Regions from separate parts of the Homo sapiens genome. Here region 2 is linked to region 1. The links come from fine-mapping of genetic effects on gene expression. Tissue or cell type: thyroid. Region 1 holds a variant in brackets; the other region holds the start of a gene. All regions are shown on one strand. Distances are from middle to middle.

What was found. PIP is the estimated chance that this variant, and not a neighbour inherited with it, causes the effect.
Region 2: it holds the start of CNTN4-AS1, and the variant in region 1 is fine-mapped to the expression of CNTN4-AS1 in thyroid (GTEx, PIP above 0.99).

What each region holds. Positions count from the first base shown.
Region 1 is chr3:3,034,562-3,042,745 of GRCh38, reverse strand. It overlaps CNTN4 (contactin 4), which reads right to left. Exons shown (of 25, transcript NM_175607.3): 17 at 7,956-8,114; 18 at 5,418-5,567; 19 at 3,743-3,813; 20 at 2,475-2,709; 21 at 324-436. CNTN4-AS1 (CNTN4 antisense RNA 1) reads left to right here. Exons shown (of 4, transcript NR_046554.1): 3 at 1,592-1,701; 4 at 2,364-3,085. Among named protein-coding and RNA genes, the nearest start is that of CNTN4-AS1, 22 kb to the left of the region's middle. RefSeq lists enhancers at 4,090-4,199, 3,434-4,633. The variant C/G (reference allele first, on the strand shown) is at 3,819.
Region 2 is chr3:3,056,414-3,064,597 of GRCh38, reverse strand. CNTN4-AS1 (CNTN4 antisense RNA 1) reads left to right here and starts at 3,453. Exons shown (of 4, transcript NR_046554.1): 1 at 3,453-3,531. It overlaps CNTN4 (contactin 4), which reads right to left. Exons shown (of 25, transcript NM_175607.3): 25 at 6,639-8,184.

The DNA.
Region 1 (8,184 bases):
GTTCATTATTTTCTTTTTTCCCATGTTTGTTTTGAGTCAAAGTGATCCTGGGCATATCAGAAGTCAAAGCTCATTTTGCCAACCATCCCGTAAATGCTTAGATTTGCATATAATTCGAAAAATACCTCTAGAATATAACATAGAAAAAGGGTAGTCTCACAGCTGAGTATTCAATGCTTCCATTAATGTTCAGCTGGAAGCCAGGCCTAAAACCAATGCCTCTTAGTGGGAATGTGGGTCTCTTCCTATAAGAATGTGACTTGGAGGACTTATCAAGGGGCATAGACTCTCTTTCAGACCCAAGGCACATATGTCTTGCCTACCTCATAACCTTGTATTCGTCCTCTATTCTTCTCCAGTGGGGAGGCCCAGAAAACTTCAATATCTGTGGCAGAAAGACTTCTGGCAAAGATACTGGCTGGTGGTTTGGTGGGTTCTGTAGATGAATATGGAGATAGTTATTACTCTATCAGCTATATTAGGACAGGATTGTAGATACTAGCATTATAAGGTAAAATAATTCATGGTTATAGAATCGTCCTTAATGATTGTAAGCCAAACCCTCATTTTGCAGAGGGGCAGTGATTAATAGCTGGAGTTGGTGGTAGTGAATATTTGTCCAGTGTTTGGGTTCTGAATTTAGGTGTGGGTAGAAGAGAAGAACCACTTAAGTTTAAGCACCAAGTTTTCATAGCCAGCAATTCCCTTAACACAGATCCTTCTTAATTAGCATCTCACAAATGTTATTGCTTACGACATGGCTAAACTGCTTCTCTTTTTCTTTTTTGAAATAGGGTCTCACTCTGTCACCTAGGCTGGAATGTAGTGGCACAATCATGGCTCACTGCAGCCTGACCTCCTGAGCTCAAGCCATCCTCCCGCCTCAGCCTCCCAAGTAGCTGGGACCACACACACATGTGCCAACACGCCTGGCTAATGTTTTTTTGTAAAGACTTGGATCTTGCTATGTTGCCCAGGTTGGTCTCAAACTCCTAGGCTCATGCTATCCTCCCACATCCCCCTCCCAAAGTGCTGGGATTACAGGCATGAGCCACTGTGCTTGCCCACTAAATTTTTTTTAAGGAAGACTATTGAAAGAAAAATGTGAACATATACAAATGGTACACAGCTATGGCAGAAATCTGGCAAAAATAACTGAAATTTGGGAAACAGTCAGTCTAGCCTCTCCTTTGCAGCCAAAGATGCTGAGGCCCACAGAGTATACCTGAGTTATCCAAGATCATACAGATTGCAGTGTGAACCTGAAGTGTCATCCAGCTCTCTTGAATCTTAGTCAAGTCAGCTGACTGTCCTTTTCCCCTTTTCCTCTCATTTTCATAATCCAGAGACATGAACTATTATCTAAGAGAAGTTGAAGGCTATGAAAAGGGCTGAAGCTTGTTTGAATAATTGTAAATCCTTTGGCAATGGTTGGAACATGAAATATGCAGGGAAAGGCATCAGCAGCTGAGGCAGACAGAGAGGCAGCAGCTAGATCATGGAGGGCTACTGAGTCTAAGGGGATGATCTCTCTGATTGGGAATAAGTTATTGCATCTTCACTGACTCTAAATCAATGATTCACCTTTCAGATGTTTTAACATGGTCCCATTCTGAGCATCATCTTTAAAACAACATAGACGAACTCCAAAGGTAACGAAGACTGTGTGAGAGGCATCCCGAGAGCAGGGATAGCATGGAGGTGATAATAATGTGTGAGAAATGTTAAACATAATGATGGTGTGGATGACAGTGAGCGCAATCACACTGCTTCATGACTTACTCTTTTCTTTAATAAGTGAGATTTTTTTTTTTTTTTGAGATGGAGTTTTGCTCTTGTTGCCCAGGCTGGAGTGCAGTGGTGCGATCTCGGCTCACCGCAACCTCCGCCTCCTGGGTTCAAGTGATTCTCCTGTCTCAGCCTCCTGAGTAGCTGGGATTACAGGGATGTGCCACTACAACTGGCTAATTTTATATTTTTAGTAGAGATGGGTTTTCTCCATATTGGTCAGGCTGGTCCCGAACTCCCAACCTCAGGTGATCCACCCGCCTTGGCCTCCCAAAAGTGTTGGGATTACAGGTGTGAGCCACAAGTACCATATGCTTTATGAAAATACAAGTGGTAAGAAAATGCAAATTATATTTTGATATTCACTTAAAGGCAAAAATAAAATTCTTTTGAAAGTAATGATAACATATAGATAGATATGAAGATCTTATATGGTATTTGCAATTCTGGTCCTTAGCAATGGAATCAATAATGGACAGCCAAGTGTTTTCATATACAGAGCAGTCGCTATCTTTTCAAGAGATTCATGGTGGACAGCGAACCAAATTGTTTACATTATCCTCTTCTCAAATCAGGTATGCCTTCAAGATACATGTACCATGCGAAATTGATTGTACGTGCTACAATCCACATTTTAGAATTGAAGAAATATTAACAGTCAATGATCTAGGCAGCATAAACGATACCTTCTTCTGCAGAATACACCACCGTGGTGGGACTGAAAGGGCCTTCTCCTTTGTTGTTGAAGACACCTACTTTAACCTCAAAGGGAGAGAAGGGGTGCACGCTCTCATTCCTGAACACGTATCTAGAGGCATCAGCTGAGGCCAGCACTGTCAGCATCCAGATCATTTTACCGTAGGGCCGGAAGGCCACCACATAACCAAAGCCTCGACCATTCTGTAATTCCTCAGGGACCGTCTGGGAAAGAAGGAAGGTGGTCTTCAGAAATCACAGTAGTTTCACTCAAATGCAAAAATCGTTTTTGTTTCCCTTGTAACATTCTTGTCTACATCCTTCTCCACCCATCTTATTTGGCGTTTTGTTAACAGTCTTTTAAATTTAGGGCTTGCAGTCAGTCTATCTTAAACAGTTATGATGTACTGGACAGGGTTGAAAACGTAATGAGGATCTGCAGTCCAGAGCTTGCTCTTTGATGGGGCAGACCCAGCTCTGAAATGGTTGGAAATGATTGTAAAAAAAAAAACACTGGACATCGGTCTCCTGAAAAACCACATTTCCAACACGTATCCTCTAATACTAATCTTCTTCCATTGCCAAATAGACAAAAGATCTCACTGAAGGAAGAAAAACCATCTTGGCTGAAGATCCTCCCTCTCAGAGGGAAGAGTTCAGCTGGAGGGATGAGTGATTTCTTTCACTGCTGTGCTTTGGGTAAATGAGAGATTTTAATTTCTGGGGCTGTTTAGAATCTTTCAAAAACATGAAGAACCCTTTCTAAAGCTCCCACCTCTTCTCTCAAAGCCAATTTTTAATAAATTGGTGACTAACTTTCCTCCAGGTTGTTTTAAAAAATACCTCCTAAAAGAGGGCCCCTTCTAGAAGCAAAGCCAATTGCCAGGAAATTGTGCTGGTGCACTGAATCTATTGCTGGCAGACGTTTTAAATCAATTGGCCATGCAGCAATTCAGGAAGAAAAGAAAAACTAGTTTTCTCTGAAACAGCCTTCTTTATTTTTTTTTGTAACGTGTGTTGTCTTCCCTTCATAATTGTTTTTACTGTGATGGATTGAATTAAAACTTGCCTCAACAATGGATGGGCAAGTGCCGTCCTTCCTGCTAGCCATTAGCTACGTGAGAGGGAGTGTCTGAACCCAAATGAATTTTCACTGTTAAAAACAGAGGAGGAAACTTCCCAGCTATGTCTAACATGGAGGAAAATAATAAAATAGCTTCGATGCGTGTACGTTCCTTTTATTCTGTGATTCATTTACCTCCCAGGTTATAACCAGTTCAGATTTGCTGCCTCCGCCACCACTGACATTCGCTGGTGTGACTTCGGGGACTGCA[C/G]AAGGAGACAAAAAACAAGTTATGTCAGGCGGCAAAGGCGAATGAGGGCCAGGAAGGTTGCCTGGCAGAGGTGACTCACTTTCAGTGAGTACTCTGAGGCACGCCCCTTTGTCTCTGGAGATCAGCAACAGCATTGTCAAGGGGCCCACGGCGACCGCTCGAGGAAGTGAAATGTACCAAGGAGACTGCTATTAATTACCTGTTTCCCATTCAACAAGGCACACGTGTTATCTGACACGTCTGACCAATTGTTCAGCTCCATCCCTAGAGGCCGAGGGGTTCCCGAAGGGAGGAAAGGACTGAAGTCTGGTCCTAATGTTTGGTTATGCGTTTATGAGCCACGTGGAGATACACAAAGGGAAGAGTACAAGCTCTGCCCAGGCAGAGCTTACAAGCTGGTTGGAGTGGAGGAGCGCCTGCACCAGTTAGAGCAAGGTCGACAACCAGGGTAAGGAACAGTCAGCATGGAGAAGCGGGGGGCGTTCCGGAGTAGCGCCCTGCTCAGAGCTGGGGTGGGCGAATGGCTTCTGGGAGGAAGAGTTTTGATCTGAGTGTTGAAGGAAGTGGCAGACAGAAGTTGACCCCCGGCTCACTGAGCTTAACCTCTTTGATCACCAGTTTTCTCTATAAAAGAGAGGAAATTATGCGAGCTTCCACCTCAGGATTGCTGAGGGGAATTAATTCAATTATGGTTTTGGAAGGGGAAAAGAAAGCAGGGGACTAGCTATATTGTCATCACGTAACTGAAAGGCTCCGGGCCACATTTAAAAAGGTCTCACTGGGGTATGTGGCTGGTGACTGGGTATGTCTCCTTGGTTAAAGCCAATCAAATAGATCTAGATGAGTTTTTGCTTTTCTGAGAGTAGGGTCAGAACTCCTATTTGTGTAGGGACCTTATTATTCCTTCAACACACTGGCCTCTCTACAGGCGGGAACTCTATAAAAGACGGCACATGTAGGCCTCTTGCTTTACACCAGCTAAGTAAAAGTACGGCTGACCCTGATGAACTTGTTCTTCTCTCCCCGTGCTCATTCAAGCTGCATATGCAGAGGGCCATACTGAATTGCTGACTGGTCTTGTTCGAATGAGCACGATGTTCTGAATCTTCGTTTCTGGGAATGGTTTATACCCTAAGAAAGATAATCTAAGTGAACATTTCTGAAGAAATTATTTTTTATTTCTATTCTAAACAGGATTACCCCATGGTGGCTGTGTCCAGAGCAGTCACAAATTATTCTTTGCCATTAGTTACTTATGTGAGATAATTTTATTTGAAATGTGGGATTTTTTTTTGAAATTCTGTTAGAATCTTGGTGACAAATGAACCAATGAAGAAAGGGCTGGCTTTTGAGAGGACTAAGCACCGTGTGTCTCTTGCTGTACAAGTGGACCTAATGAAGAAAACAACTCTTGATTGAAACCCGTTGCGTGTTCAGCTGGGCTTCTCCTGGCCTGATTTCTATCATTATAAACATTTAAAGGGAAGGGTGAGCTAACACAGAGCCGCATGAGCGCTGAAGAGCAGCAAGAATTCAAACGCTTTTCCTAAGGAACAGCAGCTGGCAGAACAGATGATCTGAATCTCGGGTGCTACTCACGAGCTTCTTCTGTTCTCCGTTTCTCTGAGGGGCGGCTGGGCTCCCCAATCCCAATCACGTTGGCTGCAACTGTGCGGAATTCATATTCAACCCAAGGGTTCAAACCCACCACGGTCGCTGTGAATGTCTTCCCATCAATGAGTTCTGGGACTGAAAGACAACAAAAGGTGGGGGCTGTTTCATAGGTTCTCAGAAAACAAATGCAGAGATTACGTTAGGAAGATAGGAACATCCATCCATCCTCATCATTATTGTATTCAGGGCAGTGTAGGTGTTCTGATATTAGCTGCATCAACAGTTGTTTCAGTGAGGTAATCTCAGAACTATCTCTGTATGTTAAACTAACACACTCTAATCAGATACCAGCAGATGACATCATAAAAGACACACAGTCCACAAGACCCCAAACTACCTGACTCAATCATTACTATCACCCCTTCACATGTGTTTCCGCATTTATTGTATAGTGCCAGACACACTATTTCAACTATCCTCTGAGAAAGGTAAAAGTATTATATTCTTTTTTTCTTTTCTTTTTTTTTTTCTTTTTTTGAGACAGGGTCTCTCTCTCTCTCTCTCTGATGCCCAGGGTAGAGTGCAGTGGCACAATCTCGGCTCACTGCAACCTCCACCTCCCAGACTCATGCAATTCTTGTGCCTCAGCCTCCTGAGTAGCAGGGACTACAGGTGCATGCCACTATGCCTGTCTATTTTTTTTTTGTATTTTTAGTAGAGACGGGATTTCGCCTCATTTCCCAGACTGCTCTCAAACTCCTGGGCTCAAGCGATCCACCCGCCTTGGCCTATCAAAGTGCTGGGATGACAGTTGTGAGCCACTGCGCCTGGCCTATATTCATTCTTAAACAATTCTTATTGTGCCCATTTAACAGAAGAGGAAAATGAAGATGTATAGAGATCAGCTGATTAGCAGTCAGGTCTAGAATTCATCTCCTAACTTCTATATTTTTCTCATATTTCCTTCTTAAAGCACACCTGTGACTCAGTGATTACAGAAGGAAACACAGAAACCCATTTCTAAGGATTAGTAAACTAAAGTGAAAAAAACAAATGGGTTAAAATCAACAAGATTTATATGAATTGCTCAACACTGGGCATATTCTCCTTCAAAACATCAAGGCCATATAGCCTACTTTTGCTGTCTAGAGGAGTGTGTATCTTTGTTTGTAATAACTACTTGTTCATCCAATTTATCCTTAAATGAAATCTAAATAAGAAAATGAGTCAATTTGGAGGTACTGACAGAGTGGGGTTGGTATAAGAATTCTTTTACATGCAAAGAGAAATAACTGTGAAACTTTTAAAAAATAGGAAGTGCTGTATACATGTAATAAAGGGAAACAGGATGGAAGTGTTGCTGCTAACAATGTTTTTTTTTTTTTTAAGAATTTGTAAAATTGGTTAAAAAGAAATCTCATGTCTTTTTATCCCCAAATTTATCCATCTAAAAAAATGGGGCTGGACACAGTGGCTCACGCCTGAAATCCCAGCAATTTGGGAGGCTGATGGAGAATTGCTTGAGCGCAGGAGTTTGAGACCAGCCTAAGCAACATAGCAAGACCTGTCTCTACAAAAAATTTTAGAGAATTAGCTGGGTGTGGGGGCCTGCGCCTGTGGTCTCAGCTACTCAACAGGCTGAGGTGGGAAGATTGCTTGAGCCCAGGAGGTCGAGGCTGCAGTGTGCTGTGATTGTACCACTGCACTCCAGCCTGGGTGACAGAGTGAGACCCTGTCTCAAAAAACACAGCAGCAAGTGAAGAGGCTCCCTATAATCCTCTGTTATTGGTTTTTGAGAGCACTGTGTAAACTTTATGAAGTCTGTGACTATTAAGTGACTATAGTCAGGCAGAATCCGCTGCTTTCCAAAGTGAACCACAGTGCTACACAGATGATTTTAGGTAATACAGATTGATGCATTTTATTTTTATAACTAATATATTTTTAATGTGTGTTACGGAAAATACATATACAACCAGCACAACAGACTTTTTTTTTTTTTTTTTTTGAGACGGAGTCTCACTGTCACCCAGGCTGGAGTTCAGTGGTGTGATCTTGGCTCACTGCAACCTCTACCTCCTGGGCTCAAGCAATCCTCCCACCTCAGCCTCCTGAGTTGCTAGGACTGCAGGCACGCACCACCATGCCAGGCTAATTTTTGTATATTTTGTAGAGAGGGGGTTTTGCCATGTTGCCCAGGCTGGTCTGGAACTCCTGGGCTCACGCGATCCATCCAACTCTACCTCCCACAGTGCTGGGATTGCAGGCGTGAGCCACCAAATCTGGCCTGGACATTACCATTTCACAGATACTATTGCTTAGGATGAGTTTAAAAAAACCCAACTGTGATTTGATATAAAGAAAAATATTAATGATAGTACAGTTGGCCGAGGTTTAGGAAACACTGCCATAATATATCATTTGTAGTAGTGTCTGAATGAGAACTTAGACGTTCCTTGCCACAGTGCTGTGTCCAGTATGCTGAGTTCCCAATGTCTCTGAGCCAAGCATCCAATATGGTACCTGTACTGACTGCTTGCCAGCCCACGGAGAATGGAGTCCTGGCTTGAATGACATACATGGTGATGGGGCTGTGGTTGTCAGGCCCGGGTCTCCAGGAGAGCTGAGCAGTGGTATCTGTGATTTCGTCTATTGTCACAGCCTCTGGGGGACCTGGAGGACCTGGGAAAGAGCAAGACCCCCAGAATTGGAGCAGTGTATTCAAACACCCAAGTAAAGGAGCCACATACTT
Region 2 (8,184 bases), 22 kb before region 1:
CAAAGTGTTGGAATTACAGGCACGAGCCAGCAAACTCTTCTTAAAGGGCTAGATAGTAAATATTTTCAGCTTTGAGGACCATATGGTCTTTGTGGCAGCCACTCAGTTCTTCCGTGATAGCACAGAGTGGCCGTAGGCAATCTATAAATCAGCATGGCTATGTTGCAATAAATCTTGATTTACAAAAAAAGCGGGCAATGAGCTAGATTTTCCCAGAGGGCCAATATTGACACATGGCTTAATGGATTCAAAATATTTATGAATGTGTTTTTCTTTTTTTTAAGAAAAGCAACCAATTTGGGAAAATAATCATGTTTAATCAAATGAAAATATTCTATCCTGGGGGATCAATGGTAAAAAAAATTGTGTTTGACTGAACTTAACCTCATTATAAGTAGGTTTTGCAAGAAACACAGGTCCAGCATTGTGTTCATACCTTTATCTGTCACACTATTCACACCATCCTTCAATAAGTGTATTTCTGTCTCCTTCAGTGAACCATGAGGGAAGCCTTAACCCTATTTATCTCAGTTTCTCCAGTGCCCAGCAAGTGCTTGACACATAGTATGCACTCAATATCTTATTTGTTAACCACTAAATTCAAGAGGAACAACTGGGCCAATTCTAACTGCCAGTTATTTGGTCTCGGATATTTGGTCCCAACACTGCAGTTGATAAACGATGCGTCCACTACATAGTTTTCCAACGAGCTGTGCTGTGGCCTATGTTCCTGGCAACAAACCCATTTTTTTAAGCTTTCAGAATATTTCTGGAATCCCTTCCACCTGCTTTAACACCTTCTTGCCACATAATGTGGGCCTTTGCTGGGGAAAGATTCCCTTGTCTTAAAACTCTTTTCTGGGCTGGGTGCGGTGCCTCACGCCTGTCATCTCAGCACTTTGAGAAGCCAAGGTGGGTGGATCACCTGAGATCAGGGGTTCGAGACCAGCCTGACCAACATGGAGAAACCCGTCTCTACTAAAAATACAAAATTAGCCAGGCGTGGCGGCGCATGCTTGTAATCCCAGCTACTCAGGACGCTGAGGCAGGAGAATCACTTGAACCCGGGAGGCGGAGGTTGCAGTGAGCCGAGATTGCGCCATTGCACTCTATCCTGGGCAACAAGAGCAAAATTCCGTCTCAAAAAACAAACAAAAAAAAAACAAAACCTCTTTTCTGCCAGCTCTAAGAGGAACTTCACCCACCAGCCCTGTCTCTCTGGACACACACACATCCCATCCTCACACCATCCAAGGAAAAGTGGGAAGGAGAGTTCAGCAAACGAAACAGAACTCAAAACAGCAAACTTCATGTCTCGCCCTCAGAGCCATTGACCTTCAGAGATCTGACAACACATTCGCAAGACCCTGAAATTTTGAATTACAAATTAATTACTTCAATGAGAGTAATGAAGACCTCCTGGTGTCAGGTTGCCAGATTTAGCAAATAAAAATAAGAGGCTCAGTTAAAGTTGAATTTCAAATAAATATCACATGGGGCATACTTATACTAAGGAAGCATAATTTTTTTTTTATCTGAAATCTAAGTTTAATAGCTCCTCTCCTATTTTATTGGGTAATCCTGATCTTGAAGGGTAGCCGGAGTTTAAAGAAACAGCTCTAAGACACCTGAAGTCAAGGACAACGAACACGCAAAAAACAACATTTGCAGTCAAGGAAAGAGAAGCAGAGAAGCTGAGCCACTTTAGAGCAGACTGAAGCTCATGACTGCCTTTCCTTCTTGTTGCTATATGGGAACCGTATCTATCTGTCTATTTATCTATCTACCTACCTTATTGTTTATGTATCATCTATTTACAGATAGAGACATCTAATGTTTTGGAGTAGGGCCCTAAACCCAAGCCACCAGCATTTCAATTCCTGGTCTCTCTGATCAACTGTGTGATCAGGGACAAATGTGAACCTGTCAACCTCAATCCTCTGTGTATAAAATAGGAATAATAAATGGTAACTAAATCGGTAGGTTGATTTGCACTGAGTCTGGCACATATTATAAGCATAATCACTGTTTACTATTATTATTATCATTGCATTTCTCTGTATTGTGACAAAATACTGTTACTGGTGCCTTGGCTTCCTCACACACATCTGAATGCCACATCATTCTTCTATGCCCAGAATAGTGCCTGGTACAGAGAGGGCTGCCAGTAGTCCCTTGCTGAATAACTAAAACCCTCTCCAGGCACCTATCCTATCCCATTCCTCCAGATGGCTGTGCCCTGGGCCTGGCCGGCACTCAGAACTTCTCCACCTCCAGCATCTGAACCTCAGACATCTCACCCTTCTACCTCACCATTTCCTCTGGCCTACCTACTTGTCCTAGAATGTTCTCTAGTTGAACTTCAGAGTCTAGTTCCTTACTCCATCCTGTCCTTTCTCTAAGTACTTATTTCTAGGTGTATGAAATGCACTAATGAGTCTATGTTCTAAATTCTAGTCCTTCTTTTTTTTTTTTTCTTTTGTTTGAGACAGAGTCTCACTCTCTTGCCCAGGCTAGAGTGCAGTAGGGCAATCTCAGCTCACTACAACCTCTGCCTCCCAGGTTCAAGCAATCCTCCTGCCTCAGCCTCCTGGGTAACTGGGACTACAAGCACGTGCCACCATGCCCAGCTAATTTTTGTATTTTTAGTAGGAATGGGGTTTCACCATGTTGGCCAGGCTGGTCTCGAACTCTTGACCTTGTGATCCCCCCACCTCAGTCTCCCAAAGTGCTGGGATTACAGGTGTGAGCCACCATGCCCAGCCCTGACTTTCTAATTGTCTATGTTACTTTGGGCTTCTTATATAACCTCTTTGCTTCCATTTCATAAATAAAAAAGGAATAAAAACCTATGTCCTCCCCTTATTAGTGTGAAAAGCACTTTGAAAACTAGAAAAACAAATTAAAGATATTACTATTTGTTAAAGTCCTAGGACATATATATTTCCTGGTATAGTTCGTGTTATTCCTAACAATAAGGATATGTGGCAAAAACCCAGTTTACAGAGAATGGGGATATCACATGTAATTGCATCTATATTTAAGTAGCTCAGCCTTCCAATTTCCAGACTTTCAGATCGATCATATGGTTGACCTTTTTTAAAAAAAGCTTTCTCTCTATGTGATCTATATCACTAGAGCTCTGCTAATCTACCATGGCCCATAACTGCTTGTGATAAAGGATAGAGGCCAATTTTGTTTAAACTGTGATCTCTGTTGAGTATTGTAGTTTGCAGGTGAGTTGCAGAGCTGGAACATTTAATCCGCATGGCCCATTTAGCACAAGGGGAAACGGGGCCTCTTTGCAGAATGGGCAGCCTGACTTGCATTTACTAATCACACTCTGGCAGGGGGCCTGAGGAAATCACAGGAAACGGGGCCAGATATTCTCCTCCCTCTAGGTCTGAGATGGAGGTGACACAGGCCTTGTGCCTGGGAGCACAATGAGGAACCACACCCAGATGCCAACGCTGAGGTGCCGTGTGTCTACTATAAGGCGGAAGACACCAACAAAAATGATTTAAATATAAGGTACGAAGGGATGACTGACATGAGTGGGTACAGACCCCATCCCCTGGAGGTCAGAGAAATGCAAGGTCAATTTCAGATGGGGAAGCTGAGGGAGGCTTTGTGCAAAACCTGGCATCTGAATGGGAACCCTACTGCCTAAGTTTGAATTAGTTGATTGTATGATTAAAATTATCGAACATTAAAATTTATATTAAGAAGTGATCATGTTTAAATAAAAGGTGATAATGGATGTGTCAGCTGAGTTCCACTCATTTTGGTGATAAGAAGCATCCACATCCTACATCTGTGGGTCTAGTAAAGTCCCTGGAGAAAAAGAACAATAACAGACGGTAAAATCATCACTGTTTGGAGAGCTTTACAAACTTTATCCTCCCTAATAAGTAGCCAATCATTACAATGCACCCCAGGCAGTCAAACTCCAGGATCCACGTCCTTAGTCTTTGTATTAGGCTGCCTTTGTAAGGCCTCAGTGTCTGGCATTTTGTAATGGAAAAATCTGGGGTATGTCCACAGATTGAATATAAGTCCTTGATTTTAAAGGCTTGCCTTTCAAAGCACTATGGTTGGCCACATAACGTTTTTAGCCAGAACATTTTGTAAATTGTAACAACAGGAAAATAACAGTCACTTCTTGATTATAAGTGTTAACGGAGGAGAACAGTAGCATCGATAATCCAATGTAGTGAACAAAAATCACCTGTTGGTTGATTACATTAGATTAAAAACTGCATGACATTTTTGTTGCTAATTATGTGCTATTTGTATACTTTTTATAACTCAACATTCTTTGCGCATATTTGTAGTGAGGCAAGGTGGTGGAAGAGACTGGGTAAAGGTTAATCAGGATTTAACATTGCCTCCTGGATATAAACAACCACAATTTTGATGGTGGGAATAACACAATCATTCTTTCTTAATATCAAAGTCTATGCACCTTCTACCTCACAGGCTGGAAGAATTCAGAGCTTACCTGAGAAATGAAGCTTATCATCCATGTCTTCTGTGCCCATGGAAAGGTGCTGCTTTGTATGTAGCATGTGTGGGCTCCATAGAAAGTAGGTACACTGAGAGAATCCAAATATCTGGCACAATAGAATTTCCTTTCATACAGTTAAATCACAAGTGGACTACACACACAAAAAGGAGGGCAAGAGTAAGCACTTTGAAAGGTTAAACAAGCAAAGCAAATTTTCCTAGTGGTCCTCCTTCAGAAAAAAATCTCAAGCAGCAATATAGTCATTCCACTCGAGTGTATTACTTGGGCTAAGGGCCTAAGAAAGTCCCCTTGGCTGGCTAAGCCTAGAAAATCTGTTACTTATACCAACCCAGCATTTCTTCTCTTACCTTTGGAAAACAGCATCTTAGTTTTCCTTTAACTATCCCTCCCCTGTGAGTACAAGGTACTCTGGCTGTGGAACTCAAATGGAACTGATCACTTTCCCAGGAATCTGAATATTGAGCATAATGGCGTCAAAATTGGAAACAAAGCTGATTCATCCCCACAATAGCACCCCAAAAAGACTTTCCAAAGTTCCCATTGTCTGGACCCACAGAGTGGCCTGGTTCTTATTCTCCTCAAGAGTTGGTCCTTCAGTGTTTCCTTGGCTCATATGATGTAACCTGTGTCATTCTAATTCCTTACTTTTTGTTTGCTCAAGTTACCCAGGGTCGTTTCTTTGCTTACAGCCAGTGGACCCTACCTGAGGCAACCATGAAAGCCAACAAATGAGACAAGTTTGGGTGGAGGTGCTCATGGGGCACTTTCTAAAACATCTTCAATTCAGTTAGACTCAACTAATCCAGGACCTCATTTACCCGATGATGAAGCCAATTGGTCAAAGACTTCTTCCAGGTACAAAGTTAGAAGCCAGGCCTTTTAACGCTTTTCAGCACATAACGAAAGTAATGACACAGTCTTCCCTGGTTGGTTTGCTGTGGCACACAGGCAGGCAACTGATGCAAAATGCTACTTCAAAGACCCCTTCATTCAATTAATCAGTGAGTATTTATTGCAAGGCACTGTGCTAGGCACTATGGAGAGTACATGGAAGATAAGACCAAAGTCCCTGCCCTCAAGGAGCTTACAATCTAGTTGGGAAGACAAGCCATACATACAAGAAAAAGTAAGTAACAATACAGGAGTTAAATTAAAATGCAAGATAACAGTACAAGAGATTTCCAAAAGTAGTATCTGATTAATTACTAAATGAGCAGCATTGATAGGGGATGCAACTACTTCCAAGCGAGAATGTCATAAAGGACTGAAGCATGGGAAGTCTTTGCAGACAAACTGGGGCTGGAGCTACCCTAGGACAGCAGGGATCTGAATGGGAGAGAAGGGTGGAGAAGGCATTTCAGGAAGGGGCAGCCATAAGACCAAAGGCACAGAGGTGAGACCAAAAGCAAGCAGTGTTCAGGGGTCAGGGAGGGCTTACTGTGGCTGGATACACAGTTAAATCGTTTTGGATTAAAAAGGGCCTTAAGGGCCGGGTGCGGTGGCTCAAGCCTGTAATCCCAGCACTGTGGGAGGCCGAGGCGGGCAGATCACCTGAGGTCAGGTGTTTGAGACCAGCCTGACTAACATGGTGAAATCTCGTCTCTACTAAAAATCCAAAAATTAGTCCGGTGTAGTGGTGGGCGCCTCGGGAGGCTGAGGCAGGAGAATTGCTTGAACCTGGGAGGCGGAGGTTGCAGTGAGCCGAGATCGCAACATTGCACTCCAGCCTGGGTGACAAGAGTGAGACTCCGTCTCAAAAAAAAAAGAGCCTTAAATGCTCAAGCTTAGAACTTACCCTTTTAGCAATGGGGGGTGAGGGAAACAACAGATATACTTACAGTAAATATACAAAAGACTTAGCTAATCAAGAGAAAATATTCAAGTCTCATCTTCAGGACATTTACTTGTGGATTAGGACCCTCTCTACTTCCAAAGAGGATTTGAAATGGTGCTTCAGGGTTGTCAATTCCAAAGGAAAAGCTCTGGGTCATCTAGATTTGGGTAGAGACTTTTGAGTCCCTCTATGATCCCAAATTATAACTAGCACAAAGGTAAGCTAACAAATTCCCTGACAGGCAGGCAGGAAAAATGCTCCCGAAAGACAAGTATCTTTACAAATGACAGAATATTTATTAACAATACCTTTAAAAAAGATTACATATGCTAGATCACTGGTAAATATCATTTACACTGGGGTTGGGAACTCCCTGGGTGTCATTTTTTTTCGTTCATTTTATTATTTTGCTGATTTTTTTTTTGCATGTGATTTTAAATTTTATTTCAACATAGAAGTAACCATATCAAACTAAGAAAGGAACACAGCTTGAAATACTGACAATATTTTTTTCCGGTTACCACCCTAGTTTTTACACAAATGGAATCCCGATTATGACTTTATTGGATAAATATAACTAGAAGGTTGAAAAGTTATATTATTTGTAAGCAAAAATGACAAACTATAGCAAATTTGAGTTCTCTGAGAAAGAAGAAAAGGTGGCAGCATGTTTACATGAGAAAATGTTTATAGAAAATTCCATTGCCTTTTATGTCACTGTCCAGTAGGGTTTACTCACAAAACCTTTCTCATTGTAACAAATAGTTCTTTTCATAAGAATACAGTTTTGTTGATATTGTCATTTTCCAATGTGTGATTTTAAGACCTAGAAGGTAAAGCATATAAAGCAACTAGGCTACCTATTGCAAAACAGAATCATCAAGAAACCATACAATTGTACTAAAGAGCTTTTATAGAGTCATATTAAAAATTCTTGCAGCAACTATTTGTTGAAATAGGAGCAATCTTCCAAAGTCCATATGTAATTTTGATTCAAAAGAAGGGCTCTATTATTACAGAGATACACATATTATATATAAGAAATTTTGTAAAGAAATTACGAATCCATTGACAGAGAATTACTTTTTTTAAATTTACATTCAAAATAGATACAGTTAAAGATAATAAAATGATCTTTTATCCTTTGAAAGACTTGGTTGACTATAGTAACTTTGGGTCTATGTTACTACAGGATATATGTTACTTCAAATTTAATGTCTAAGATAATGCTACCACAAAGACAATGCTAACTCAGTTGAGTGAAAAGAAAATCTTCCTGTACAATGCTAAATTCAGGGATGGGAATATTGCACAAGGTGCCTCTTGGGCAGTACATTGAGCTTTTGAGATTGCAGCCATTCCTGAAACCATCTCAAGTTGGGTTGAACAACAAAATTCACAACGGCATGAAAACATACTGTACATGTCAAAATCACAACGGCATGGGAAACATACTGTACATGTCAAGTGCATTAACCACTAGAAGAGTAGTTTGCATACAACAGCCTTGAGTTACGGACCAAGTCTTCCGCTGTTCTGCCATGAGATCCTTGTAAAACTGTACGAGTAATTTGCAATTTATTTACCAAGATGAGTTTCAAACTCTGTCTTTAAAGGAAATATTTTCAAATTATAATTGCATGATTGTGTTGCCCATAGCATTTTACAGCCGAGGAAAAAATTAATATCTACATTATATGTTAACTTTAAAAAATTCTATAAAACACTAAATATATAATAAAAAATATGCATATAAGGACATATGTAAACTGCTTTGGTAACATCATATTACAGATGTCTTCAGTGCATTGCAGAGTTTCCA